Linked DNA regions of Homo sapiens. The protein of the gene in region 1 interacts with the protein of each later gene in a biochemical or structural test. Each region holds a gene or a part of one and is shown on either strand. Other genes may lie near its edges.

Region 1 (3,500 bases):
TCATCCTCATTTTACAGATGCAGAAACTGGGGCTCAATAAGTTGAAGCAAAGTACCCAAGGTCACCACATAGCTAATAACTGTCAGACTCAAACCCAAACCCATCAGACTTGAGAGGCTTTGCTCTTTCTGCCCAACTGTGCTCTTCCTGTCCTCCCCCTCTCCTGCTCCCCAGGTAATATGTGAAGAACCTGTCTGGGTAGAGACAAACAGCCACACACAAAATGTAAAGGGTTGGCACAACAAGCAGTAATTCACTCTGCCTTCCCATGGGCTGGGAGAAATTAGACCCACCTTGAGTCTGACTTCAATAAGGGTAAGAAAAAGTTTACAACCAGGAAGATTTGAAGCAAAAGGAAAAACCCAATTTCCATCACCAGTGCCTGCTTTCAGCCACTTGTAACTACTCAAAAAGTCCTTTCTGGATTCATTACTCCACATTTGGGCTTAGCCCAGAGGTGATTTTTTAAGGAAAAAATGCCTTTTGGCATTTTTGAGCAGTGACAGCGTAAAAACAGACCTTTAAAAAACACACACCCAAAAAGCATTACTATTTTCAAATGTCCAGTTGAAAAGAAAAAAAAAATGGTGACACCTCAGAGTTACAACTTGGCTTGGCAGTTTGTGATGCAACACTTAGCAGCAAAAGGGACCAGATTCATAACTCTGTAGGTTTCAAAGGCAAAGCCATACACAGTGTTTCTTAATACTGGAGTCCTACCCCATCTCTACTAAAAATACAAAAATTAGCTGGGCATGGTGGCGGGCGCCTGTAGTCCCAGCTACATGGGAGGCTGAGGCAGGAGAACTGCTTGAACCTGGGAGGCGGAGGTTGCAGTGAGCTGAGATCACGCCACTGCACTCCAGCCTGGGCGACACAGCAAGACTCCGTCTCAAAAAACAAAAAAAGAGAGAGACAGAGATAAAGAAACAAACAAACAATACAATACAATACTGGAGTCCTAAACTACCGGCAAAGCACTCAAGAGAAAAACTTGCCAGATGTAAGCTGGGAGAGCCATGTGATACTGAAAAAGAACTATTTAGGAGGAAACTCACTTTTCATTTCCTAGTTGGGGTTTAAACTTGCAACATCCACGCTGCCTAACAAAAGGCTCATGCTTACGCAATCAAGTGCAGCCTTTCTTTATATAGATGCTTGGAAATAAATAAAGGAAGCTTCCTGGGTAAACTTTGACATATGAGCAAACATTTTCCACAGGTATCCTCTATAATGCCTACCTCTTACATTTAACCATTTTTAGGCATCTGTGGTCATTAGTTTAAGTAAACTTCCTGTTCTTAGAATAGTCAAAAATAGCAACAAAAGAAGAAAAACTGTTCACTGCATCTCAAGAGGCACAGCCTCCACATCTTCATCCTAGCATTATTTTCATATTCCTTTGTAGTTAAATTTCACTGATTTAGACTCACAGAGTAAGGAAGAGGCAAGGAAGAGGGAGGGAAATCACCAAAATTAAAGGCTGAATTACAATTTTATTATTTTTACTTATGTAAATTAATTGACACCAGGCTGATAGAGTCTTGGAACATCAATAATTAAGAAAGATCTGTCATTCACTGATCAACTAGATGCGTGCAACTGGGAGCTTTTAAAATGTTTGTATGTGGCCGGGCGCGGTGGCTCAGGCCTGGAATCCCAGCACTTTGGGAGGCCGAGGCGGGCAGATCACTTGAGGCCAGGAGTTGGAGACCAGCCTGGCCAACATGGCGAAACTGGTCTCTGATAAAAATACAAAATTAGCCGGGTGTGGTGGCACATGCCTGTAATCCCAGCTACTCAGAAGGCTGAGGCAGGACAATCACTTGAACCTGGGAAGCGGAGGTTGCAGTGAGGCAAGACCGCGCCATTGCACTTTAGCCTGGGCAACAAGAGCGAAACTCCATCTCAAAAAATAAAATAAAATAAAATAAAATGCTTGTATGAATACCAATTCCAAGTTAGAAAGGCCCTCCAATAGAGTTTATCTAGCCTATTTTCCAGTTGAGAACATTCGAGGCCCAAAGAAGGTGACTTGTCCCAGGTCACACAGCTAATCAGAAACAGAGCCACGTCTAGAACCTACCAAGGTCTGCTGACTCCTACCTCCAAAATAATCCCCAAACTCTTGTTTATTAATTTTTCTTTGACAGCATTTATGGGGCAAAAAGGCCTGCTAAACAAACTTTTGCCTAGTCCAGAATTAGCCAAACTTCTTAATTAATAGGCTTCTACTGTGTTTTCATTTTAAACTGAGTCTCTGCCAAAACATTCTACAGCAGTTGCCACTGTGGCAGGCTGCTGTTTATAGGAAGGGTCTTAGATAACCAACAGTGGATAGTATGCTATAGATTTGTTTATTTCTCAAACTGTTAAGTCGAAACAAAGGATTATGTTATACAGAGAGAAAGAGAAAGAGAGAGAGAGATCCTTGTCAAGTCAATAAACTGCAGAGCTTGGGGGATGTGGTTTGGCACCAAAAAAACAGTATTTACAAATTAGCTAAAGAGTGAACACATACAGCATTCTTACAACTCCAAAGAACCTGTGTTTCACAGCCAGTGGACTAGAAGCTACAGAAGGCACCAGGGACAGTATCTGCCTTATTCACTATTTTGTCCGCATTATCTGGCACAGAAATTAGCACCTGGTACGGCATTAAAGGAAGGCATAAAAATGAACTGGACAAGTTCTCTTGGAATTGTCTCGGTTCTAAAGCTTAGAACACAGTAAAATTAGAAACCAAACTTCTGTAGGGTGGGCTTAGGATGGCAACTTCCCACTGTTTCCAGGAACCATTGTGCTTGAAGATGGGAAGACTGAAGGCTCCATGGCTCAGGGACTTGTCAGAGGCCAACAGAAGGTCATACCCCTCCTTAGGGAGGAGTTAGTCCCATCCAACACTGCACCAGCCATTCACGTCTGCACATGGCTGGTGAACTTCCACCCCCTGCACATTCAGCAGGCTGCCATCATGAGCAGCCTTCTTGGGCAGTTCTCTTGCCAGCCAACCAACACTATGAGATGGGGATTTGGGGGAGGGAATGGAGTCTTTAAGTTTTGCTTTTGTTTTAATCAGTCAATATGGCAAAGGAGAAAAGGGCAAAAGTCAATTAGGACTATTGATGAGACTTGCTGATTAAGAAAACTGCATTCCAATCTTAGAGAACTTAATTGCAATTACAGGAAGCTGAAGGAGAGGTGAATAAAGGTGGGAGAATAAGGTTAACAGGAATGAAAGCTGATTCCAATTTGAAGCAAGCCCTGCTTGGTCTTATTTATTTCATTAAGGAGCTCACGCAGAATAATGGCTGTACTGTGCATCAAATGGCATTAAAATCTCCTAATAAATTAACAAGTAAAAATTAATGGTCGCTCAGTTCATTAAATCGTGTTAATTTTATTCCATTATAATAATACAGCAATCACATGTTTACATTATTAAACCAATATTTATTTTTTAACTCATTTAGTTGGATTCCTGATGTGATAAGCTTGAA
Region 2 (4,118 bases), on another chromosome or scaffold:
CTGTAAAGACCAAAGTCACAAGCTGAAACCAGAAGAGTAGAAGGAAGAAGGAGCCCGAGTCCCTGATGACTGTGGGGCTGCCACACCATCGGTTTACTCAGTGACATGCTAGGAAGCTGGCTGTCTGAGAAAAACTTTTTTTTTTAAATCCCCAACAGTGCCAATTTCCATGGTGTAAATGTTCCCACTCAAGTGGATTTCAAGCCATCAGTGTGAAGTAGTAGTTGGACTTGGCATTGGGATGAGATGCACACAATCAGCTCTCAGGAGCCAGTGCAACCTGCCGCAGCACACCCACCTGGAGTCCTTTCCTAGAGACTTGTCTTACATGAGAGAGAAACGCACCCCATCTGACTGCAGCTACTTCAGCCAGGGCTCTGTTACTAACAGCTGAAAGTCATTCCTAACATTCGTGTGCAGCTTGAGCGGATACAGTCCTCGGAGCAGAGGAATCTTGTTTGCCTAAGAGAGTAGAAAGACCGCTCCTCAGGTGCCTCTGACAGCCTTGGGCTATCCAGCCTGGGACACAGTGTGGCTGAGAGGCAGATGTTGAGGAGATGGGCCAAGTGCTACAATTCTCCCCCTGGTGGCCCCCATGGGTCCACAGAAGACCCAGCCACCCAGGCAGCTCTTCAGGATTTCTGAGAAACTGCCTTGGAGTCTGCCTTCCTCACATTGCTCAGGGCACTTGAGAAACCTGGACATTTCCTCCCTGATTTTGCAGTCAGGGAATAAGGACAGCGGGCTTGCTCCTTCCTCCTGGATCCCGGGAGAATCAGAACACTCATTTGCCCATTCCACAAACATGTGTTGAGACCTTGGGCCCCACATGGTGCTGTGTCAAGGATGGGGAGAGATGAGGTGTGAGTCCTAAACGTGATGCCACGAGGTGTGCATGTGTTGGGGTGACAGTCAGGGACACAGACACTTACATCATGGGGAATGCTGCGATCGTGTTAGGAGATCCCAAACTTGCTCCTCTCCCCATATTCCCCATCTCAGTGAAGTGCACCCCTCCCCTAACTCCATCCCAGCCAGAAACCTCGGAGTGAGAGTCATCCTTGATTCCTACCGCCTCCAAACCAATCCAGTCACTAGGTTTGCTCTGGAATTTGTTCTCTCCTCTCTATGCGTGCTGCCTCTGGTTCGGTTTTTATCACTTCTTTTCTGGGCTGTGGCCCCAGGCTCCTCCCTGCCTCTAGCTCTCCTGCTGCTCCAAGTGCCCTGCACAGCAGCTGCAGTGATTGTTCTAAAGGGCAGATGTATAAATGCTTCCCCCTCTCACTCTCCCCATTGTGCCAGTCTGCAGATTTCCACATTGTCTGGGAAGAAAGGCACAAAGCCTTAGGGTGACATTCAAGGCTCTACTGCTGGCCCCAACCTTTTCTTCTCCAGTCCTAGCTCTTGGTCCAGACGTGTGCTGTTCAATACGACACACGTGGCTATTTAAATTGCAATTAATTAAAATGAAATAAAATGGAAAATTCAGCTCCTCGGTTGCACTGGCCACATTTCAAGTGCTTGCCAGCCACCTGGGCTGCTGTATCAGACAGTGCAGACACAGAACTGCCCGTTCTACCAGAGAGTTCTAGTGGACAGTACTGCTGCAGACACACTGAGCAGCTCGCAGGGCTCTCCAGGCCTTTACACATCTCTCAAGACCCAGATCAAATGTCACCTCCCCTGGGAGTACATGTCTCAAACTCTGCATGCACAGTGTCCCACACTTGTACCCTGATGGCACACACTGCATTTTAATTGCAAGGTTACCTGTCAATCTCCCCTACTAGGCCGGGCACAGTGGCTCACACCTGTAATCCCAACCCTTTGGGAGGCTGAGGCTGAGACCTTTGGATCACCTAAGGTCAGAAGTTCAAAACCAGCCTGGCCAACATGGCAAAACCCCGTCTCTACTAAAAATACAAAAATTAGCCAGGCATGGTGGTGGATGCCTGTAATTCCAGCTACTTGGGAGGCTGAGGAGCAAGAATCGCTTTAACCCAGGAGGTTGCAGTGAGCCAAGATCGTGCCACTGCACTCCAGCCTGGGTGACACAGCCCAGTCTCTTTAAAAAAAAAAAAAATCTCCCCTACTAGATTGTACATTCCAGCCTGGGTGACAGAGCGAGACCCCATCTTTAAAACAACAACAACAAAAATCTCCCCCACTAGATTATGGGCTCTTGAGGGCAAGGACTGTGGAAAGGGGAGATTTTCACAATCTCAGTACCTAGGACACGGCCACACACCCCTGGCCTCGCTGAGTCTTCAGGATGTCCCTGCCCAAGGATGAGGCTAGGCTGAGTCAGAGTTCACCTCGAAAGGGTGGGAGGGGAGAGAAGGCCCCCAGCAGGCAGAGTTCCTTGGATGGGCTAGGTGCAGAGCCCAAAGAAACAGCTAACTTAGGAAAACCAAACCCTAGAGTCCAGAAGGTAGGACTTAGAAGGCTGCCTGAGCTGTGTCACCCCTCCCGCTCCAACGTGTCTCCTTCCTTGGTTAGAAGACTGGCTCTACCACCCATTGGGCTGTGTGACCCTAGGATGTCACCTAACCTCTCTGTGCCCCAGTGCCTTGTCTGAAAAATGGGGATAATCATATCTCCTAGGGTTGGGAGGATAAAGTGAGACAATGGTAAGAAGTGTTCAGCCTCACAGGGCACAGAGCCTGGCACACCCTGGGTGCTCGGGAGACAGAGCGGTCACTGTGTCCCGTATGCGGCTCCCTAGTCGCTTCTTTGTGTCTTCATCCCTCACTGTGTCCAGGTGGCCCCTCCTTCCCTTCTCAGATGGCCAGAGCAGGAAGAGGCTGCAGGGACCATCTGGTCCAACCCCTTGGATTGCCAGGACAGGAAACACAGGCCCAAGGGAAGGGACTGACTGGCCCACGGCCACACAGCTTGACACAGGAGAACAAACTAGAAATTTTACTCCAGCAGAGAGGTCACACAGGAAACTGGAGCCTGATAAACTCTCAAGTGATACAGCTTAACCCTGAGGAAGGACACTGGTAACGGCAGAGACCCAGGACCAGAGGGGCTGGAGGCGGATGTGGTTTGGGTTTGAATTTCACAGGCATCTTGTCACCTAATTCTCACAACAATCCACAAGGTTAGTAGTGTCTTTATTGCGTCCATCTCACAGAGGGGGAAATTGAGGCTCAGTGAGGTTAGGCAGCTTGCCTAAGTTCACACAGCTAGTAAGAGGCAGAGGGGAGGCTCTCAGTGGCTCCGAAAATCCATGTTCAAAATCTCTTGGCCTCCCTACCTCCCATGCAAATCAATGCAGCAAAAATTTCTGAGTACCCAATGAGTGTCAGGCTTTGTGCTGGCCGCTCCAGGGGTGGGCCTATACATGGTCCTTGAAAAATTTGCAGTTAGTCGAGGAGGAAGAAACTTGAATAGGTAAAATACAAAGAAGAACAGGATAAACATGGAGGGCCTGCTAGGATCCAGAACAGCTGACAACACCTGGCTGTGCTCACAGCACCCTCCCTCCACCTTGGTTTCCAAATCTGTAAAGTAAGGTCTTATTTTTATTTTTTATTTTTTTGAGACAGAATCTCGCTCTGTAACCCAGTCTGGGGTGTAGTGGTGCGATCTTGGCTCACTACAACCTCTGCCTCCCAGGTTCAAGTGATACTCCTGCCTCAGCCTCCTGAGTAGCTGGGATTATAGGCGCCCGACACCACGCCTGGCTAATTTTTGTATTTTTAGTAGAGATGGGGTTTCACCATGTTGGTCAGGCTGGTCTTGAACTCCTGACCTCAAGTGATCTGCCTACCTTGGCCTCCCAAAGTGCTGTGATTACAGGCATCAGCCATGGCACCGGACCTCAAATCTATTAAGTAAGGCCTAACAGCACCTGCTCCATAGGCTTGCTCTGGGAATGAAATGACTTAATTCATGACCTGACATGACGTACAGGGTGAGCTCAATCAATCTTAGTTGTCATTATCATCATAGTAACTATATGTAAAGTTGGGACTCAGAACGGGGGGAGCTTCAAGGAAGGAGTTTGTTTCTGATGGAAGGACAAAGGAAGATGGATGGCCAGGGTTCCTTCAAGTCTCCAGGATGGGCCAGGGCATTGCAGGTGGGGAGAACAGGTTGGGTAGGGGCCC
Region 3 (4,118 bases), on another chromosome or scaffold:
ATCTCTACAGAAATGAAGAAGTGAAACGAAAATGCAAAATTAAACTCTCAAACGGCTAATACGCTTTCAGGGAAAAAAAATTTTTTAAGTTGCTATCTTTAGGTCATCTGTTTGTATCATAAGTAATCTATAGAGATTTTTCCCCCCTAAGTAGATTAAAAACTAAAATATTTTACTTACCTAAGAGTAGTCCAGTCTAAATGTTAAAAGTTTAAATTTTAGCCAGGCACGGTGGCTCACGCCTGTAATCCCAGCACTTTGGGAGACTGAGGCTGGTGGATTGCCTGAGATCAGGAGTTCGAGACCAGCCTGGCCAACATAGTGAAACCCCCATCTCTACTAAAAATACAAAAAATTAGCTGGGTGTGGTGGCAGGCACCTGTAATCCCAGCTACTAGGGACACTGAGGCAGGAGAATTGCTTGAACCTGGGAGGCGGAAGTTGCAGTGAGCCAAGATTGCGCCATTGCACTCCAGCCTGGGCAACAAGGGCGAAACTCCATCTCAATTTAAAAAAAAAAAAAAAGGGTATATATAGTTCTTAACTTAGTAAAGTGGAGACTGTCAGCCACATGCTACAATAGGGAAGAATCGGCCAGGCGCAGTGGCTCACGCCTGTAATCCTAGCACTTTGGGAGGATGACGACGTCAGGAGATCGAGACCATCCTGGCTAACACGGTGAAACCCCGTCTCTACTAAAAAAATAGAAAAAATTAGCCAGGCGTGGTGATGGGTACCTGTAGTCCCAGCTACTCAGGGGGCTGAGGCAGGAGAATGGCGTGAACCTGGGAGGTGGAGTTTGCAGTGAGCTGACATCGCGCCACTGCACTCCAGCCTGGTCAACAGAGCGAGACTCTCGTCTCAAAAAAAACAAACAAACAAACAAAAAAAGTGAAGAATCACCTACAACAAATGACCACTTCCAATATGTTTGAAAATAATCTTAAGTAAACATTACTCTTCAAATTTTATTTACAAATGATTAATTTGCCTGTTGATCTTTTTTTCATACAAACGTAATATTCAACAAAATTAGAATTAGATCAAATTTATTTTAATTTTCTATTTTTGTTTACATATATTTGATCTACTTCTGATTTTGCTGAATATCCACTGAAGATGTGAAAAAGAATCAGGAATGTGATGTTTGCATGTATTTATACAGTTTAAAGTAAAATAATGATTATTCCAATAAAAAACACAAAAAGCTCGTATCAGGTAAGTAACTTGACAACATTCTGTAGAACAACATAGGCAGATCTAAAATCAAGTATGTGTGTGTGTGTGTGTGTCTGTGTGTGTGTGTGTGTGTGTGTTTTGAGACAGAGTTTCACTCTGTCACCCAGGATGAAGGGCAGTGTGAACTCGGCTCACTGAAACCTCCACCTCCTGGGTTCAAGCCTGCCTCAGCCTCCCAAGTAGCTGGGATTACAGGCGTGTGTCACCATCCCCTGCTAACTTTTGTATTTTCAGTAGAGATGGCGTTTCACCATATTGGCCAGGCTGGTCCCGAACCCCTGACCTCAGGTGATCCACCCAACTCAGCCTCCCAAAGTGCTGGGATTACAGGCATGAGCCACCGCGCCTGGCCTAAAATCAAGTATATTTCTTATGGCGACTTGAGTAAGAAAGAGTTATTAGCTATATTTAATTAAGTTGTCTCATTTCAAATTATTTATAATTTACAAGATACTACAACTTATTAACATTAAAATGTATTAATATATTACATATTTTATAATTGTAAAATAATTAAGTTGTTTCATTTCGAACAACTTACTGAGTTTCAGGACTTTTTTTAATCCAAAAGCAATACTTTGATTACATAAACTATATACGCATGTCAAATCATGTCAGTATTCACACCAAACATCAGGTCCTTTACATAACACGTTAATATATTTAGTACAGTCTTAAAAAAAAAAAAAAAAAAGGCCAGGCGCAATGGCTCATGCCTGTAATCCCAGCACTTTGGGAGGCCGAGGCAGGTGGATCATCTGAGGTCAGGAGTTCAAGATCAGCCTGGCCAGCATGGTGAAACCCCGTCTGGACTAAAAATAAAAAAATTAGCTGGGTATGGTGGCAGACGCCTGTAATTGCAGCTACTTGGGAGGCTGAGGCAGGAGAATCGCTTGAATCCAGGAGGCGGAGGTTGCAGTGAGCCAAGATCGCGCCATTGCACTCCAGCCTGGGCGCAAGAGCGAAACTCCATCTCAAAAAAAAAAAAAAAAAAAAAGCCTAGTTTGACTTTTTAAAATGAGCTCCCTCTGGGTCAATTTGGCTTGTTTGGCAACCAACTCAATGACTCACAGAAGAAAATAAAAACTGTTCCTCAGTCAAGGACTATCTCATTCTCAGTTAAATACCTTAGTATTTAAATTTATATGCAGGTTAAAACAGAGTTTGAGAACCATCATAGAGGCTGAATATCCCTTATCAGAAATGCTTGGGACCAAAAGTATTTTGAATTTCTGATTTTTTCAGATTCTGGAATATGTGCACGATATGGCAGTTGAGCATCCCAAATCCAAAAATCAAAATCTGAAATACTCCAATGAGCATTTCCTGTGAGTGCCATGTCAGCATTCAAAAAGTTTTGGCCTTTAGAGCATTTCAGATTTTGGATTTGGGATGCTCAACCTGTACTAAGGTAAATTGATAAGAAAAGTTAATGTTTCTCAAAATTCAGTTTCTGCTACTAACATGTGCTTCAGGGGCAAATAGTGAAAAATTACTAAACTTCGAGTTAGAAGCCCTGTATTCAACTCCTGATTCTGGTTATACAACCAGGAGCATGTGACTCATCTAAGAGGTGGAAATATTGTCATTCACCTTCCTCACAGACCCTAAAAAATAAGTGTACTTCACAATGTTCTGAGTACGTTTTTAAAACGTGAAGTGGTAAGCATAATAAAACAACCACTCAAGTACGTATTAAATATGAACCAAAGAAAAGAATCTTTCTTAAAGTATGGGTGTTTGAAATTTTCTTAAATTCCTTTAAATTTCTCAAATTCACATAAAATTACAAGCAATATCAAAATACACCACAAACACTAATTCAAATACTGCAAAATATAACACAGCAAAAAGATCAGAAAGAAACTCACACCTTCCTAAAATCGAAAATGTATTCAAATCAGTGAATTCTGGGACAAAAAGGGATTACATCCCAGACGAAGGATGGTTTCAGTGTTAACCAAACCTCAGCACATTGTTTCAGTTAAGTAAATTAATCCATCATCTTTTTTTTTTTAAACCTTTATCATGGTTCTCAGATGTTTTTCACATAAACACAGAGCAAGAATATTAGGAAAAGTAGTTTATCCAAAATACACTTATGTCAGACTAATAATTAGACTGGGGCGGGCCAGGCGCCATGGCTCATGCCTGTAATCCCAGCAATTGAGAGGACGAGGAGGTCGGATCACCTCAGGTCAGGAGTTAAGACCAGCCGGCTAGGCTGTAAAATCCCATCTCTACTAAAAATACAAAAAACAAGCTAGGCATGGTGGTGGGCACCTGTAACCCCGGCTACTTGGGAGGCTGAGACAGGAGAATCACTTGAATCTGGGAGGTGGAGATTGCAGTGAACTGAGATCGCGCCATTGTACTCCAGCCTGGGCAATAAGAGCGAAACTCTGTCTCAAAAAAAAAAAAAAAAAAAAAAAAAAAAAGACGGGAGCAACAATATCTGGCAAATGTGGCCTCCAACAGACATGTAAGAGTAGACCACCACTGGGCATGGTGGCTCACGCCTGTAATCCTAGCATTTTGGGAGGCAGAGACAGGCGCATTGCCTGAGCTCAGGAGTTCGAGGCCAGCCTGGGCAACATGGTGAAACCCCCTCTCTACTAAAATACAAAAGAAATTAGCTGGGCATGGCGGTGGGCGCCTGAAGTCCCAGCTACTCGGAAGACTGAGGCAGGAGAATTGCTTGAACCCAGGAGGCAGAGGTTGCAGTGAGCCGAGATCGTGCCACTGCACTCCAGCCTCGGCGACAGAGCAAGACTTGTCTCTACAAAAAAAAAAGTACAGCACCTAATTAGCTTGGGGGCAAGATATCACAAATATCAAAAGGGGCATTCCACATTTTGAAATATAATCTCTGAGCACAA
Region 4 (4,118 bases), on another chromosome or scaffold:
CAGTATGTGTGTGTGTGCGCGCGCATGCGCACGTGCATGCCTGTGTGCATGCTGTGTGCTAGTAGGGAGCTGGAGGGAGGGTGGAAATCCCTCTTGCTTCCCCATGAGGAAAAGCATGCACTGAAAATACCAAAAGAGACTCCCCTAGCTAGACTCAGATGAGAACGTCAGACACTTGAGTGCAGACCCTGGGAGCGTGCCTGACACAGCCACAGAGCAGGCTGGCTGTCTGGGCGAGGTGATGCCGTCCCAGTCTTCCACAGCAAGGGGTATTTAGCCCCCAGACAGTGCACTCTCTCCAATGGACAGCTGCATCTGCCCTGAAAGCGAATGCTCCCTCCCAGGGCAGTGTTTCTCCCAGTATGGTCAGAGTCAGAATCACAGTGCAGGTCTGGGGCCCTCCTGCGGAGACTCATATTCAGGCAGCTCCCCGCTAAGAAGGCCCTCGGTGACTCTGGCATAGGCAGGCTCTTTACACTTGGGGAAACAGCACTATGAGGTCAGCGGAACTGACGTTTATCAAGCATCTCCAAGTGTCATGCACTTTGTGTATGTCATCTCATTTAACCTCACAACAAACCTGTGACCCAGGCAACATTAGCTCCACTTTGCAGATGAAGAAACTGAGGCTCCAAGAAATTAATTAACTTCATCAATACTAACAGGCAGAACTGAGCTTCAGACCCGAGACTGTGGGGCTTCGAAGACAGGACTCGCTGCAGTGGTCAGGTTAGAGGAAGTCACCTGGCAGCAACCCCGCCCCCACGTTACCTGCATGATGGCACTGAACTGGGGCTCATTCTCCATCTGCTCCTCAGCGATCCCCCTCTGGACACTGGCCAGCACGGTGGACTTGAAGAAGTACCTCCAGTTGTGATGGAGCGTCCGGAAAAGGAGCTCAAACAGCTCGGCCTTCACATCAGGGGAGGGACGCTGCAAAGACACACAGACGCTCAGACCTGCAGCTTGCGGAGCTGCTCCGGCCTGGGCCCAGGGCAGCAAAGATGCCTAGGAGACGCCTCGTGACAGCAAGCCGAGTGTCAACACTCCATCCACATGCCTGTCACTACCTGCGCAAAAGACATCCAGCCCCTGGAGTCCTGTCACTGCCTGTGCAAAAGACATCTAGCCCCTGGAGTTGGCGGTTCACACCGCGAGTTCTTCAGGAGAGACATGGCCCACATTTGAGAGAGAATGCACGGGTCAGTGCCAAGGGCCCCTTTTTCTGATGAGCACTCAGCTTTTACACTAGAAAAAAGCTACCAAGTGGATGAACAATTAGGAGTATGGATTTCCTGTTCTATTCGACCTGTCAGATCTTCTTGCTTGTTCCTTTTCCCAGGATAAAAAATGCTGTCCCACTAACCTGTTGGTCTTACACAACCACGGAGGCTAAAGACAGACCCAACGCCTTAAAGCGATTCTGCTCCCCAGAAGGGGAGGGTTTAAAGAACACTTGGGAGCCAGGCTCTCTGGGCCAGTCTCCTCTTTCCCAGTAGCCAGGATTCTGAGAGGAGTTAGAGGAGAAGGGTCAGGCTCAGCAGTGTTTTCTCATTGACTCCAACTCCCCCAATCCCTTATTCCAAATGTCTCTGCAGAATTCAAAATTAGAAGGCCCACATATATTCAGTTCAGCCTTGATTAAAATTAAATAGACACCAGGGGCCACAAGCATCCACAGAAGAAGCCTCATAGGCCCAGTGCATTTCGTAATGCACAGCAACCAGACCTGTCCCAGTCTCAGTTCAGACAGTTAAAGATTAACTCTTATTTATACGACTATTACCAAAAAAACTGAAATTAAATCTATACTTATTCCGGGTCTTATTATGCTGAGTGCCTGCCTATTTTCTAAGAAGGACAAAGGGCTTTCCTGTAACACTGAAAGGTTTGTTTGAATGGTTTCAAGAACTTGCCTTGTATCCTCGAGACCATGAATGTTTCTAATAGGAAAGTACATATGTTAGAATGTTTGCTATAGAAAACCAGAGTCTCTTAAAGGTATAAAATTTGCCGCAGGAGACTGATCTTAGCAACTGACCCTGTGGAATAACTGCCATGCTTACACTAGACTAGCTCCAATGAACTCAATCAATATAAAAACACTGTACCACACCACTAAAGGCCTTCTTCCTTGGGAGAAACTACTTTACAAGCATATTAAACTAACAAATGAACTTTAAAACACAATACATTTTCTGTGAAATCTCATTCCCTTCCCAATCTGGAGATGGGGGGTGCTGCACAGGGGACCGTCTGAGCCCCTACCTCGGCAATGATGGGATACACTTGCTCCATGCACAGGGCGATGATGCTGGGGAGGAAGGGCTTGAACACCTGGCCTGGCTCCTGGACCACCACCTGCAGGATCTTCAGAAACTTCTCCACCACCCGGCAGCCTGTGCTGCCCTCGTGGAGGATGCTCTCGGCTAACTGCTCTCTACAGAGGAGAAAGCCACACAGTGAGCAACCACATGTTTCTCTGGGGGCCAGCATGAAAACCCATGCTGTGGCAAGTGCAGAACAGGAGCAAAAAGCCACACTTTGTCGCCAGACCCACCACTTCTCCCTTGAATCTGAAAACTATAGATGGTGGGTCTGTGCTTACCTGGTAAACATGTTGAGGAAAGTCTGTATGATTTGCTCAGTGAAAGGCACACCCATCTGTACTCTAAGGCCTCGAAACAGAGTGAGGAAGAAGCTCAGCATCTCATCAGTCACATCTGAGGAAAGGGGCAGAGATATCGTCAGAGGCTTGCACACAGTGAGAACCAGAACCCTGGGCTTCATCAACCTACTCCTGAAATCTGCACTATCAGCTTTCTCTACAGCTTCCTGCTGGAAACATTTCCCCAACACCATCAGGGCCAATGATGGAAAGTGGAAAACGATTAGGGACATGCTGAGAAAATAGTTCTGGTATAGGGAACCTCCACCTGGTGGCTCACTACAGGAAATGAAGGTCATCTCGAACCCTCCCTCATTGCCCGACATCCAGTGATGGTCAGAGTTTCACTGGAGAGGGATCACTTTGTGCCCACACTGATGAATGCCAACTGGGTCAACACCTGAGTGCTTAAGCCATTTCCCCCTATGACTAATAATCCCTGCAGCTGGGTCAGGGGTTAAGTGGTTGAAAGTGGATAATGAAGGTGTATTTAGGTTGCATGGCCCTGGTCCATTAAATGGATTAATTGCAGAAAATACTGGTTACATATAGGGCAGTTTCACTTCCAGATCTCAACAATCATCTTGTGTAGTGTGTTTCAGCCCTAACTGCACGCAATCTGCTTGCAAGAGGCAATGAATATTTGCTGACTGAGAAGTGCCTGATATTTCTCTTGTAAAACTGACAAGACTACTATAATGCTGTCATGAGAGCTAGGCAAGTACATCCACAGAGCTAGAGAGGCCCTCTATCACTGACAGTGACAGACAAGGGTGAGGGGAACGATCTCGGCAAATGCACCTTGCCACAAAATAAGGAGAACTAAGCCAAAAAAGCTCTCTTGCCTTCTCTTGTAGGTGCCAAGGCCCATATGGAGAGCTCTGCTCACTTTTCCAAAGGGCCTTGGCCCTAGACTCCACAAATAAACATCACTGCCCTTTCCCCTCAGTACCGGGTTTCGTTGCACGGAACAAGTCAAGGCCTGTACTGCACCGACTCAGTGTGTTCTACAGATCTAAGTGGGTATTCTGGCCCTTGTTAGCACCACCCACCAGTGGGGCCTCTGGGCCAGCTCCTACCTGACTGATGGATAAAAGCTGGAAAGAGGGCCAGGGAGACCTGAACAGATTCCTGCAGCGACTGGTAGCAAATCTGTCGAGACTTGGTGGACTCCCCCGAGATATTCTCCACAATATCTTCTAAGACGCTGAGTGTCTGGTGGATAATCAGTTTGGCTGCAAATCAAGATGAGTTGCAGGTTATAAGCTGTCTGGGGAGAAAGCATGGTAAGAGGAGACACAAGGGAGAGGGAGGAAACTTGCAAAGGTACCAAGAAGATGATCACACGAGTCTCACTAAAGGAACAGTCTCTTGATTACAATATAAATTCTCCTCTCTTTATGTTTTAGTTTTTGTTTTTACTATTATTACTGCCAGGACTCCAGAAGCC
Region 5 (4,118 bases), on another chromosome or scaffold:
CTCAAATGATAAGTGAATATAGTAGAAAATAAAAGGTTGCCCCCACACTCCAAACATACTCTCCAGGGTGTATCTCAAACACTCAGACCCTTTTCCGTACGTAAACATGTGTTTACACATAATAGGTATTCTGCAACTTTTAAATTTCTTATTTATGTCTGCATAGTACCCCTTCATGGAAATGCCATAATTTAACCATTTGAGGAGCGTCCATGTTATTTCTTTCTAAATAATGTTTTACAATATTGCATTGTACAACTCTGTAAATACCTGAGTATTGGTGAATAATCTTTCTCTTGCCTTTTAAAACAGCAAAAAAGAAGAATAAGAAGGGGAAGACTATCTCCCTAACAGACTTTCTGGCTGAGGATGGGGGTACTGGTGGAGGAAGCACCTATGTTTCCAAACCAGTCAGCTGGGCTGATGAAACGGATGACCTGGAAGGAGATGGTAACTTTTCTTTTGTCATCGTGTTTGGAATGTTTATTATTTTCTAGACAAAACCTATTACATAATAATTCACATCGTTTGTAATCTGAAAAGAACTTACTCATTTTTTAGCACCTGAAATCTTACATATTTTATAGAATCTAAGGTTTAATCTGAGGTTTGGGCTGTCAGACTTTGCAGTGAAGACTGAAGTGGTCATTTAAGAGAGCTTTGCTAGTTCTTGTTCTTGCATTAACAGACTTCTTAAGTTACTATTCTTTTGGGCCTCATTTTCTTCATTTTAAAAGTAAGAACTAGATCATCTTTTAAAATTCCTTTTAGGTCTAAAATTCTATGGGGTCCTCATAAAGTGATGTTTCAGGCTGCTCGCGATGGCTTACACCTGTAATCCCAGCACTTTGGGAGGCCGAGGTGGGCAGATCACATGAGATGAGAAGTTCAAGACCAGCCTGGCCAACATGGTGAAAACCCATCTCTACTAAAAATACAAAAATTAGCTGGGCGTGGTGGCATGTGCCTGTAATTTCAGCTACTCGGGAGGCTGGGGCAGGAGAATTGCTTGAACCTGGGAGGCGGAGGGTGCAGTGAGCTGAGATCATGCCACTGCACTCCAGCGTGGGAGACAGAGCGAGACTCCATCTCAAAAAAAAAAAAAAAGTGATGTTTCAGTGTAATCTGTAAGCTATGTTTACTCAGAGCCAAGGAATAATTAGTTCCAGGTGTCATTAGTATAAAATCAGAGTGTCCTTGGGTAAACGAAAATGGTCTGAGGAAAAGGAGTGAGAACAGTAATTATGGTGGGAAAATAAAGAAGAGTCAATTGGACAAGTTCTGTGCCTTCAGGGAGTCGCCAGGAATAATAAGGAGCTATGTTTTATAATGACCGGGTATGACATAAATCTCATTACCATTGTTTTTTTCCTGAAAATCGTTTATTGCATGCTGAAAGAATATTTTTTCCTATGACCTGTTTTCATAATTCCTAAAAACAGGAAATTTTTTTTGAGACAGAGTCTCTATTGCCCAGGCTGGGGTGCAAGTGGCGCACTCTCTGCTCACTGCAACATCTGCTCCCGGGGTTCAAGCGATTCTCCTGCCTCAGCCGCCTGAGTAGTTGGGATTACAGGTGCCCGCCACCGCGCCCAGCAAATTTTGTATTTTTAGTAGAATCAGGGTTTTACCATTTTGGCCAGGCTGGTCTTGAACTCCTGACCTCATGACCCACCTGCCTCAGCCTCCCAAAGTGCTGGGATTACAGGCATGAGCCACTGCACCCGGCCAAAACAGGAAATTTTATATAGGTCGTACTTCCCATAGGTGTTGGTATCTGAAGTACAAATTCATGGACAGTGCTGTAGGAAAAGATTTTTGTTGTGATATTTTTGTTTGTTTGTTTTCAGATGGAGTCTCACTCTGTCGCCCAGGTTGTAGTGCAGTGGCACAATATCTTGGCCCACTGCAACTGCCGCCTCCCGGTTCAATAGATTGTCCTGTCTCAGCCTCCCAAGTAGATGGGATTACTGGCACATGCCACCACACCTGGCTAATTTTTGTATTTTTAGTAGAGACAGGGTTTCACCATAATGGTCAGGCTGGTCTCAAACCTGACCTCAGGTGATCACCCACCTTGGCCTCCCGAAGTGTTGGGATTATAGGTGTGAGCCACCGAGCCAGGCCTGTTGTTGTTTTTAAGGGAGGATAGACCATGCAGAAAAATACTCAACTTCAAACTCACCACTAGGAATACAAGAGTTGTCAGTAGTGGTTAAATATACCTGGAGTAAGAGGGACCCAGGTTTGAATCCTAGCTTTACCGTCTGTGACCTTGGGCAAATTACTGTCTGAAATCTGAGTTTGCTTTTCTGTAGAATGGGGGACAACCTCACAGGACTGTTAAAAAGATAAGATGGGATATAATGAATATAAAGTAGCTGGCACACAGTAATATTCCATAAAGAGTTGTATTTATGGAATAATATTTCTTTGCTTACATAAAGATTAAGGTGTCATAATTAATCTCAGAAGCTTCTCTTCGTAAAGTGCCCTTATTACTGAACCCCCACTTTTTTTGGTCTGGTTTTCTTGTATAGCATGTTTAATATTTGGCAATTAACATGGGTCCTCTTGTTCTATGACAGTAGTGAGAGAAGTTTCTTCTAATTTCTTACATTCATTCCTCTATCCTAGTTTCGACCACTTGGCACAGTAACGATGACGATGTGTATAGGGCGCCTCCAATTGACCGTTCCATCCTTCCCACTGCTCCACGGGCTGCTCGGGAACCCAATATCGACCGGAGCCGTCTTCCCAAATCGCCACCCTACACTGCTTTTCTAGGAAACCTACCCTATGATGTTACAGAAGAGTCAATTAAGGAATTCTTTCGAGGATTAAATGTAAGTGTAAAAGTTGTAATAATTAACTAGATATTGAGGATAATGTCTAAAAAAGACTAATTGTGGAATGGGCAGTTGCTGTTGAAAAAACAACTAGAAATATAATTTAAGGCCGGGAATGGTGGCTCACGCCTGTAATCCCAGCACTCTGGGAGTCTGAGGCGGGTGGATCATTTGAGGTCAGGAATTCGAGTCCAGCCTGGCTAACGTGGTGAGACCCTGTCTCTACTAAGAATACAAAAATTAGCTGGGCGTGGTGGTACACGTCTGTAATCCCAGCTACTTGGGAGGCTGAGGTAGGAGAATTGCTTGAACCTGGAAGACGGAGGTTGTGGTGAGCCGAGATTGCGCCATTGCACTCCAGCCTGGGCAACAAGAGTGAAACACCATCTCAAAGAAAAAAAATAAAATCAAAATTATATATATATATATTTTTTTTTTTTCTTTTTTTTTTTTTTTTTTTTTTTTGAGACAGAGTCTCATTCTGTCATCCAGGCTGGAGTACAGTGGATTACATGCCCAGCTAATTTTTTGTATTTAGTAGAGATAGGGTTGCACTATGTTGGTCAGGCTGGTCTTGAACTCCTGACCTCAGAGGATCCACCTGCTTCGGCCTCCCAAAGTGCTGGGACTACAGGCATGAGCCACTGCACCTGGCCTGAATTAATCTTTTTTTTTTTTTTTTTAGAGTTAAATTCATACAGTTCAAAATTCAGAAGGTATAATAGGGCATTTAGTAAAGTTTCTACTATCCCTCTGCATCAGTTTTCCTCCTGAGACAACCATGTTCTTGTGTATTCAGAAAAATTCATGCACATACAGTAATGCTTTTGTAGTCCTCTCAAAAAATGACAAATGAAGAAGAATGCTGGGAAACTTTGTTGTTGATTCTTATTCCTTCAGATCAGTGCAGTGCGTTTACCACGTGAACCCAGCAATCCAGAGAGGTTGAAAGGTTTTGGTTATGCTGAATTTGAGGACCTGGATTCCCTGCTCAGTGCCCTGAGTCTCAATGAAGAGGTAAAGAAAATAAGAGTGGGGATATGAGGGGTGTAAGTTCACAAATCTCATGTTTATTGATCAAACTGGTATTTTTTAGGTTGAGAGGCTCACTTCAAAGATTCCCATATCTACAAATAAAGGCCTGCATTATTTAACAGTGTATCACTTAACATCGAACATCTAGCAAGTCACACTTCAGCAAATTCAGTAGGCCCCAATAATTTAGATAGGTACTTAGGTGGAAAGTTGTGGAAGAAACCCACCACACAC
Region 6 (4,118 bases), on another chromosome or scaffold:
TCTCTATCAAAAATATAAAAATTAGCCAGGCATGGTGGCGCATGCCTTTAGTCCCAGCTACTCGGGAGGCTGAGGCAGGGGAATCACTTGAACCTGGGAGGCAGAGGTTGAAGTTAGCCAAGATCATGTCACTGCACTCCAGCCTGGGTGACAGAGTGAGGCCCCGTCTCAAACAAACAAACAAGAAACTAGGAAATTAAGGCTGGGTGTGGTGGCTCACGCCTGTAATCACAGTGCACTGAGAGGCTAAGGCAGGAGGAGTGCTTGAGACTAGGAGTTCAGACCAGCCTGGGCAACATAGTAACCAGCCTGGGCAACTGTCTCTACAAAAAAAAAATTAGCGGACTGTGGTGGTGCACCTGTTATCCCAGCTACTTGGGATGTTGAGGAGGGAAGAGCTTGAGCCCAGGGGGCTGAGGCTGCACTCCAGCCCAGGCAACAGGGTGAGACCCTGTCTCAAAAAACAAACAAACAAAAAACTAGGAAAGTAAGCTGATGGAAGGGAGTAAAATTAAAAGTTCTACCATGAATTAGCCAGGCGTAGTGGCGGGCGCCTGTAGTCCCAGCTACTCGGGAAGCTGAGGCAGGAGAATGGCGTGAACCCAGGAGGCGGAGCTTGCAGTGAGCCGAGATCGCGCCACTGCACTCCAGCCTGGGTGACAGAGCGAGACTCCATCTCAAAAAAAAAAAAAACATAGTTCTACCATGAGGGGCCAGGTGTGGTGGCTCATGCCTGTAATCCCAGCACTTTGGGAGGTCGAGACGGGTGGATCATTTGAGGTTAGGAGTTCGAGACCAGCCTGACCAACATGGTGAAACACTGTCTCTACTAAAAATACAAAAAAATTAGCCAGGCGTGGTGGCGCATGCCTGTAGTCCCAGCTACTCGGGAGGCTGAGGCAGGAGAATCGCTTGAACCTTGGAGGCGGAGGAGGTTGCAGTGACCTGAGATCTGCCATTGCACTCCAGCCTGGGTGACAGAGCGAGACTCTGTCTCAAAAAAAAAAAAAAAAAAAAGAAAGAGTTCTACCATGAGGAAAACAAAGCACACTTGACTTGGAATTGAGCACCCGTCAGAAGACCTCATTTGTGGCTCTGACACCGACCAACTGCGTGAGCTATGTTGACTCACAGGCATCTCGGTCTTTCCATGAATGAAGTGAAAGGAAAACCCCTGCCCACTAGAAATGCTATGTGACGCTACAGGAGATGACATCTTGGGTCATGAGGCTCACAGACAGCATTTTTTTTTTTAATCAAGACATTTTCATAAAACTACTTAGCCACTCTAGCTGCTGGCATCTAGGACGGCTGTTGAGTGTAGCAGAAAAGTGGGCTTGAGTGCTACATTGAAGACCCTCCATGGACTTTAGGTAGTAACACATGAAGTAGTTAAGGAGCTCTTCTTAATGATTTTGCCTGGATTCAATAAGATTGAGTCACAATCTAAAAGATACATTTGTTTATCATTCTAGTGTCCTTTGCACTTAACTGCTGTCCCAGATACAAGTTGCAGTACAGCACTGGAGAGACTGTCAGGCTGGGCTGACCTTGATTTTGGTTGCTGTGGGACACATTACCTTCCAGCCTGGCTTGGCAATGTGCTTAAAGTAGGGAAAGTGGTCCTCAATCCACGTATAGATGTCTTTCAAAGTCATGCGCTTCCTCTCAGTGCTGTTGATGGCGAATTGTATCATGGCCATGTAAGAGTAGGGTGGCCGCTCAGACACAGAGTTCTGCCAGGACGCTGATGGTCTCGAAGGCTCCTCAACCTGAGGGTTATGACACAGGGAATGACATGAAAGAGTTCATGAGAAGCACCCCCAACCCAAGCCCTTGAAGAACATCTAGAGAAACCTTTATCCCATAGGACGGTCTAGAAACAAACTCATCTGAGACCACTATCTCATAGAATAAAATTTTAGAGTTGGGAAGAATCTTGGAGATGATCTAGCCTAGACCCTAGCCAATAAGAAACTGGTTTTGTCATCCATCATTTTGTTGAATTTGGAGAAAATCCAGTCCCTTCCAGTTGAAATTTCTTAGGAAAGTTTGAGTATGTACTTTGATTCTCAAAGCATTGATGTTACACTAAAACCACGCCCGTTTTTCAGACTTTTGGGTCTAGAAACCTAGGTCTTAGTCCCATTTCTGTTCCTGATGTGCTGTGAATAAACGCATCTCATTTCAATGTTTGTATGAGAGAAACATTCTCAAGACTATGAGTCAGACAATGTCTGCAAAGCACACAGTTAGCTAAGTTTTAGGCAAAGAGCTGATCAATCACATTTCTTTTTCTTTTTTTGAGACAGGGTCTCACTGTGTCACCCAGGATAGCGTGCAGTGGCTGGATCACAGCTCACTGCAGCCTTGACCTTCCCAGGCTCAGGTGATCCTCCTGTCTCAGCCTCCAAGTAGCTGGGACTACAGGCATACACCACCACGCCCAGCTAATTTTTTTTTTTTTTTTGAGATGGAGTTTCACTCTTGTTGCCCAGGCTGGAGTACAATGGTACGATCTCGGCTCACTGCAACCTCTGCCTCCTGGGTTCAAGCGATTCTCCTGCTGCAGCCTCCCAAGTAGCTGAGATTACAGGTGCCTGCCACCACGCCCAGCTACTTTTTTTGTATTTTTAGTAGAGATGGGGTTTACCATATTGGCCAGGCTAGTCTCGAACTCCTGACCTCAGGTGATCCACCCACCTTGGCCTCCCAGAGTGATGGGATTACAGGCATGAGCCATTGCGCCTGGCGATTTTTTTTTTTTTTTTCGTATTTTTAGTAGTAGAGACCAGGATTTTGCTATGTTGCCCAGGCTGGCCTAGAACTTACGGGCTCAAGCAATCTGCCCACCTTGGCCTCCCAAAGTGCTGGGATTACAATTGTCAGCCGCTATGCCCGGTCTCATTCACATTTTTAAAATTGGAGATATTACTTTCTAAAGTACACAAATTTTATGTATATAGCACAATTAATATTTACTTACATATACACGCATGTAAATTTTCACTTTTTTTTTTTTTTTGAGACAGAGTTTCACTTTTGTTGCCCAGGTTGGAGTGTAATGGCACGATCTTGGCTCACCGCAAGCTCTGCCTCCTGGGTTCAAGTGATTCTCCTGCCTCAGCCTCCCGAGTAGCTGGGATTATAGGCATGTACTACTGCACCCAGCTAATTTTGTATTGCTAGTAGAGGCGGGGTCAGGCTGGTCTGGAACTCCCGACGTCAGGTGATCCACTCACCTTGGCCTCCCAAAGTGCTGTGATTACAAGCATGAGTTATCGCGCCTGGCCAAATTTTCACTTTTAAAGATTGTTGAGCTGGAGGCTATGATCCTAAGCGATTTAATGCAGGAACAGAAAACCAAATATTGCATGTTCTCACTTATAAGTAGGAACTAGGCTGGGTACGGTGGCTCACGCCTGTAATCCCAACACTTTGGGAGGCTGAGGCGGGTGGATGACGAGGTCAAGAGATTGAGACCATCCTGGCCACCATGGTGAAACCCCATCTCTACTAAAAATAAAAAAATTAGCCGGGCGTGGTGGCGGGCGCCTATAGTCCCAGCTACTCGGGAGGCTGAGGCAGGAGAATCACTTGAACCTGGGATGCAGAGGTTTCAGTGAGCAGAGATTGTGCCACTGCACTCCAGCCTGGCAACAAAGAGAGAATCCGTCTCAAAAAGAAAAAAAAAGAGGCCGGGCGCAGTGGCTCACGCCTGTAATCCCAGCACTTTGGAAGGCCAAGGCAGGTGGATCACGAGGTCAGGAGTTCAAGACCAGCCTGGCCAACATAGTGAAACCCCATCTCTACTAAAAATACAAAAATTAGCCGGGCGTGGCAGCGGGCACCTGTAATCCCAGCTACTCAGAAGTCTGAGGCAGGAGAATCACTTGACCTGGGAGGTGGAGGTAGCAGTGAGCTGAAATCGCAGCACTGCACTCCAGCCTAGGAGACAGAGAAAGACTACGTCTCAAAAAAAAAAAAAAAAAAAAAAAAAGCAGGAGCTAAACATTGAGCACACATGGATATGAAGAAGGGAACACTAGACACCAGGGCCTTCTTGAGGGTGGAGAGTGGGAGGAGGGGGAGACAGAAAAACTACCTAGCAGGTACTA
Region 7 (4,118 bases), on another chromosome or scaffold:
CACTCTGTGCAGCCTGGATGTGCACGCACATGCACACGAAGCACACACACGCCCCTACACAGACACTCCTAATCTTACACCTGCTCTGAAGCAGTAGGAAGTGAATTCTCAATCTGTCAACATGACCATCTGGTCTATCTGCATATCACGGCTTTCTCTATTACTATATGAAGGAATGGCAATCACGAAGCCAAAATAAAACTAAAATGCACCTGAATGGGAGTAGCTCTCTTTTGGCTGAAATGGAATAATATGAGGTACAGCAGAACAAAACTAGCAAGAATCTAAATAATTTGAAATGAGCATTCATGTCAGCATAATTAAGTGAACAATATGGTACAGGTAATGTGGTAATCAGTAATACTGTTGAGTAGGTTTATAGGACAGGTATCAGGCTTCCGAGACACTGAAACAGCTCCTTCAGTGATTGAAAGGATCTTTGCTATTCCTGATGCAAGCAAAATTAAGTAAAGGTAATAATGGTAGCAGCATGGAAGCAATCAGTAACTACTGCACTAAAAGATTACCGTGCAAAAGTGTTCTCTTTCTACCTTAAAACTAACAAGTACTCATACTGCTGCCATTAGGACAACAGCAACTTGCTTTGTCACTGGCTAATTAACAATTAAAGCAATTACCTGACAAATTGTGGTCACTTATTAATCTTTCAAACTGAATTTTAAGACTGCTAAAAATACTTCTAATGTTAGAAAATTCCTCATCTGCAAAAAGTGAAGATGGCTCACTGTGATTTAGCTTTTAGGCCTAATGTCACTTGAAAATTAGCAAAGGCCTTAGTTGAATTAAACATAAATTAATTTGTTTAATTTTAGATTTTAAATGTCCCCACACAGCTGCCTCCAAGCTTTTATTCTACCCCATGGCAGGTAATAATATCAAATATAAATTGTGAAACTGTCATTCTATGGCCTAAAAATAGCAACCTGCCTCTATCCAAGAAATGAGTCCTTAAAAAGTATAACCTTTCACAAAATCTAACTAATTTGACTGAGAATCTTTCTAGAATCTGATTACATTACCAGAAGTTTATACAGAAGTGGTTAAAAAAAAAAAAACAACAACTCTCCAGAAACTTCTCGGTTGAGTGCCTACTAATGAACAAAGGTTAACTTTATCTAAAAGGTCAAATGCCTGGTGGCTAAGGTTATGACCTTAACAACTTAAATTGTGACCTTGCCACGTGCCGGGTATATTGTAGATTCTGATACAGATCATCTGGTAAAGACTGGTCATAAATTAGCTTTACTGTTACACACCCACAAAGAAAACCATTTGCCACAATACCATAGTATCCCCAAGTTGTCATATGATACATGGGAAGGACAACTCAAATTGAGACCAAATTAAGGGCATAAAATGGTTTTGTTCTTTTAACAAGATGAAATTCTCAGGCTTATGAAATCACTCCAATTTCATTACACTTGTTACTGCTTATCAGCCACAAAATTCACAGTTCTAATGCCACTGGATTTAGAGGGAAAAAACTGGAATGTAGTTTATGTATTATATTTTAGCATGTCAATAAGTCTTAGAATAAATCACCTCCGCTTTAAAAAAAAAAAGATTGATTCTGCATTTGCTTCTAGTATTCTCACGTATGTTCTGAGATTTCAACTTCCTACCAAAGAAAGGTGGACACATAAAGCAAGAATTATTACACACAAATTTCAGAAGGAAAAGAAGATCTAATTTCTATGACCATCTAGGGGGAAAAAAAGGCATTCTGGAAAGGAAAAAAATATAACAATTTAAAAGAAAGAGCGAGAAAAAACGCATTATAGGTGAAAAGGCCACAATGGTTTTGGCATGTATCTTGAAGCACGTTTCAGAGTCTCTGCCTCCTGCCAATACTGGCAAGTTCTCAAAACTTTTAAGGAGGTAAAAACATTGTTTAGTGTTTACAAATCTTCAGTATTATAACAGATGCTTGTCAAATCAGTTGTATGTAAGTTGACCGATCTACCTCATATTTGTATTGGCAGCTTCCCTTCCACAAATAACAGGTCTCTGAATCTCTTAAATCAAATTTGAAATATTTTCAGACAAAAGACCCTTAATATTTTCTTTTACAGTCTTCCTGTTGCGCGCACAGAGAAGCAGCCATTACTGCGGTCCCGTGAAAACCAATGGCCAAACATTTGGCTGGCATTCAGGCATAACAAGGGATTCTGGGATACATCAGGAAAACCAAACCGAAGAGTAGTCTGATCTATGCTGCTGTCAATAAATCTTTCATAAGCAATAAGGATGCTAACTCTCCTAAGTAACCTTCTAAATGTCATTTTACCAACATAACCCCTTCAGGCATTGCAACAACCAACAACTGTGTTAGTTCAAGGATTGGGAGCAATAGCACAGTAACAAACCAACGACGAAAAAGAAGGCACGTAATGAGAACAGCGAAAAGATTGCATTTCTTTAAATAACAGAGAAATGTTTAAGACGAAAACTTAGAATGGACACTGCTTACACCGACAAAAACTTCACAGGTATTTCATTTTGATGTTATCTTATATGGAAGCACACATCATGATCTGCATCACCTGTTGGCACTTTCAAGTTTCGATGTTGGTCATCTATTCGGGATAATTTATAGGTTATATTTTTCTAAATATCTAAAAGGTAAAAACAAGATTTTAAAGAGTGCTTCTTGAAAGCACCTGTAACACCTATACTTTTTTTGCGTTTTGCTGTGCTTAACATATGCAGACACATTTTTTAAAAATTTTAACTTTACTTTTTCAGTAAACAAAACAAATGAACAACAACAGGGTTAAGAGTGGGTTAAAAAAGGGCTACTTATTCCTGCTTAGAGGTCACTTGAGAGGTGCTGACTTTTCATTCTTGCTACCCAGAATTGGCTAAAGCAAAAGGCAATTCTTATAATTAAGTATACATTTTTGAAAACCCAAATATTTGAAACACTTACAGCTCACATCCTCTAAAATACTCATCTATCCCCTGCCAACAGAATGCAAATGATGATGTGACATGCTTGCAAAGCTAATTTCTCCAGTTTCTTATGTAAGGGCAGATGGATAACAAAAGTTCTCTTTCTAAAACATATATTGAGAAAAATAATAGAGAACAGGCTATCAGCTGGCTTCTTTAAAAACTCACTAACATTTTTAGAATTAAAAATGTTTTGAAGAAAAGTGCAGTGTTTTTACAGGTAACATCTCTCCTTTGTAAAAAAAAAAAAAAAAAAAGAAAAAAAAACGTTAAATATTTGAACCCCAAAACAACCTACTGGTAGGATTCCACAACCCTCTTTCTTCCATCTGGCTCAAGTAACTGCCATGAAGGTAATCTAGCAAGACCGATATGTACATATATAAAGTCAACAAGTTACACAAGACCTGAGCGTTCACATAGCACAATGAGCCTTTTGTCTAAAACAAGACGAAAGGAACAAAGTAAAAATGCATTATTTTATCCAGTCCTCAATAGTTTTATCCTGCATGCTATTCTAAACACTGAAACATGCACAGGTAAGACATGCCTTGAAAAAACAGAAAAAAAATTTAAGATTTTACAATCAAAGCAACTCACTACATCAATTATCAATAGCAATTTTTCAATGTGTTCATGCAATATACAGGTTGGTTATTTTTAATATTAACCTCTCCATCAATTACTGAAAGAGCTGGTTTGTTTCCCTTAGCTATCTGAGACAACACTAAGAATTCCTAAATACAAAGCTACTAAGTCTGCGTATTAATGTGATTATTTTTCCTTCCTAAATGATCAGCAATTTGATAGTAATCTACCTCCAACTTCTTAATTGGCAAGGGGTTCAAGAGGCCTCAGTAGGTTAAAAACACTCCCAGCAGAAAACCAACTAAAAATATTGCCTCAATACCAAAATAAATGCTTTTAAACTAGATCATTTGTCAGTTAAAATATACTCTTTATTAAAAGGGTTTTCACGAGGCTTCTCTCATCCCCTCATCAAAAAATGTGATTTAAACATATCACATATCTGATTACCAACGCCTCTGAAAACACTACTTACCAAAAGAGCTGAACTTAGTGAGAATTCGCTCAAAGCTATGCTTTTTCACCTGAATGAAGGTGGCACCTCTCTCAATCTTTGA

Evidence for each region.
Region 2: the proteins of SMAD3 (region 1) and TRIM62 form a complex in vitro, tested with the Homo sapiens proteins (one study listed by BioGRID).
Region 3: the proteins of SMAD3 (region 1) and SKIL form a complex in vitro, tested with the Homo sapiens proteins (one study listed by BioGRID).
Region 4: the proteins of SMAD3 (region 1) and XPO6 form a complex in vitro, tested with the Homo sapiens proteins (one study listed by BioGRID).
Region 5: the proteins of SMAD3 (region 1) and EIF4B form a complex in vitro, tested with the Homo sapiens proteins (one study listed by BioGRID).
Region 6: the proteins of SMAD3 (region 1) and FOXM1 form a complex in vitro, tested with the Homo sapiens proteins (one study listed by BioGRID).
Region 7: the proteins of SMAD3 (region 1) and NFIA form a complex in vitro, tested with the Homo sapiens proteins (one study listed by BioGRID).

The regions. Positions count from the first base shown.
Region 1 is NC_000015.10:67,072,102-67,075,601, reverse strand, and holds part of SMAD3 (mothers against decapentaplegic homolog 3), read right to left. Parts: intron 1-3,500. UniProt on the Homo sapiens protein: Receptor-regulated SMAD (R-SMAD) that is an intracellular signal transducer and transcriptional modulator activated by TGF-beta (transforming growth factor) and activin type 1 receptor kinases.
Region 2 is NC_000001.11:33,168,253-33,172,370, forward strand, and holds part of TRIM62 (E3 ubiquitin-protein ligase TRIM62), read right to left. Parts: intron 1-4,118. UniProt on the Homo sapiens protein: E3 ubiquitin ligase that plays a role in antifungal immunity by mediating 'Lys-27'-linked ubiquitination of CARD9 downstream of C-type lectin receptors; leading to CARD9 activation, followed by activation of NF-kappa-B and MAP kinase p38 pathways.
Region 3 is NC_000003.12:170,363,871-170,367,988, reverse strand, and holds part of SKIL (ski-like protein), read right to left. Parts: intron 1-4,118. UniProt on the Homo sapiens protein: May have regulatory role in cell division or differentiation in response to extracellular signals.
Region 4 is NC_000016.10:28,103,775-28,107,892, forward strand, and holds part of XPO6 (exportin-6), read right to left. Parts: intron 3,904-4,118; coding exon 3,748-3,903; intron 2,724-3,747; coding exon 2,609-2,723; intron 2,441-2,608; coding exon 2,269-2,440; intron 934-2,268; coding exon 772-933; intron 1-771. UniProt on the Homo sapiens protein: Mediates the nuclear export of actin and profilin-actin complexes in somatic cells.
Region 5 is NC_000012.12:53,016,161-53,020,278, forward strand, and holds part of EIF4B (eukaryotic translation initiation factor 4B), read left to right. Parts: intron 1-312; coding exon 313-450; intron 451-2,637; coding exon 2,638-2,846; intron 2,847-3,749; coding exon 3,750-3,866; intron 3,867-4,118. UniProt on the Homo sapiens protein: Required for the binding of mRNA to ribosomes. Functions in close association with EIF4-F and EIF4-A. Binds near the 5'-terminal cap of mRNA in presence of EIF-4F and ATP.
Region 6 is NC_000012.12:2,866,983-2,871,100, forward strand, and holds part of FOXM1 (forkhead box protein M1), read right to left. Parts: intron 1,773-4,118; coding exon 1,581-1,772; coding exon of another isoform or gene 1,536-1,580; exon of another isoform or gene 1,232-1,535; intron 1-1,231. UniProt on the Homo sapiens protein: Transcription factor regulating the expression of cell cycle genes essential for DNA replication and mitosis. Plays a role in the control of cell proliferation. Also plays a role in DNA break repair, participating in the DNA damage checkpoint response.
Region 7 is NC_000001.11:61,088,808-61,092,925, reverse strand, and holds part of NFIA (nuclear factor 1 A-type), read right to left. Parts: intron 1-4,118.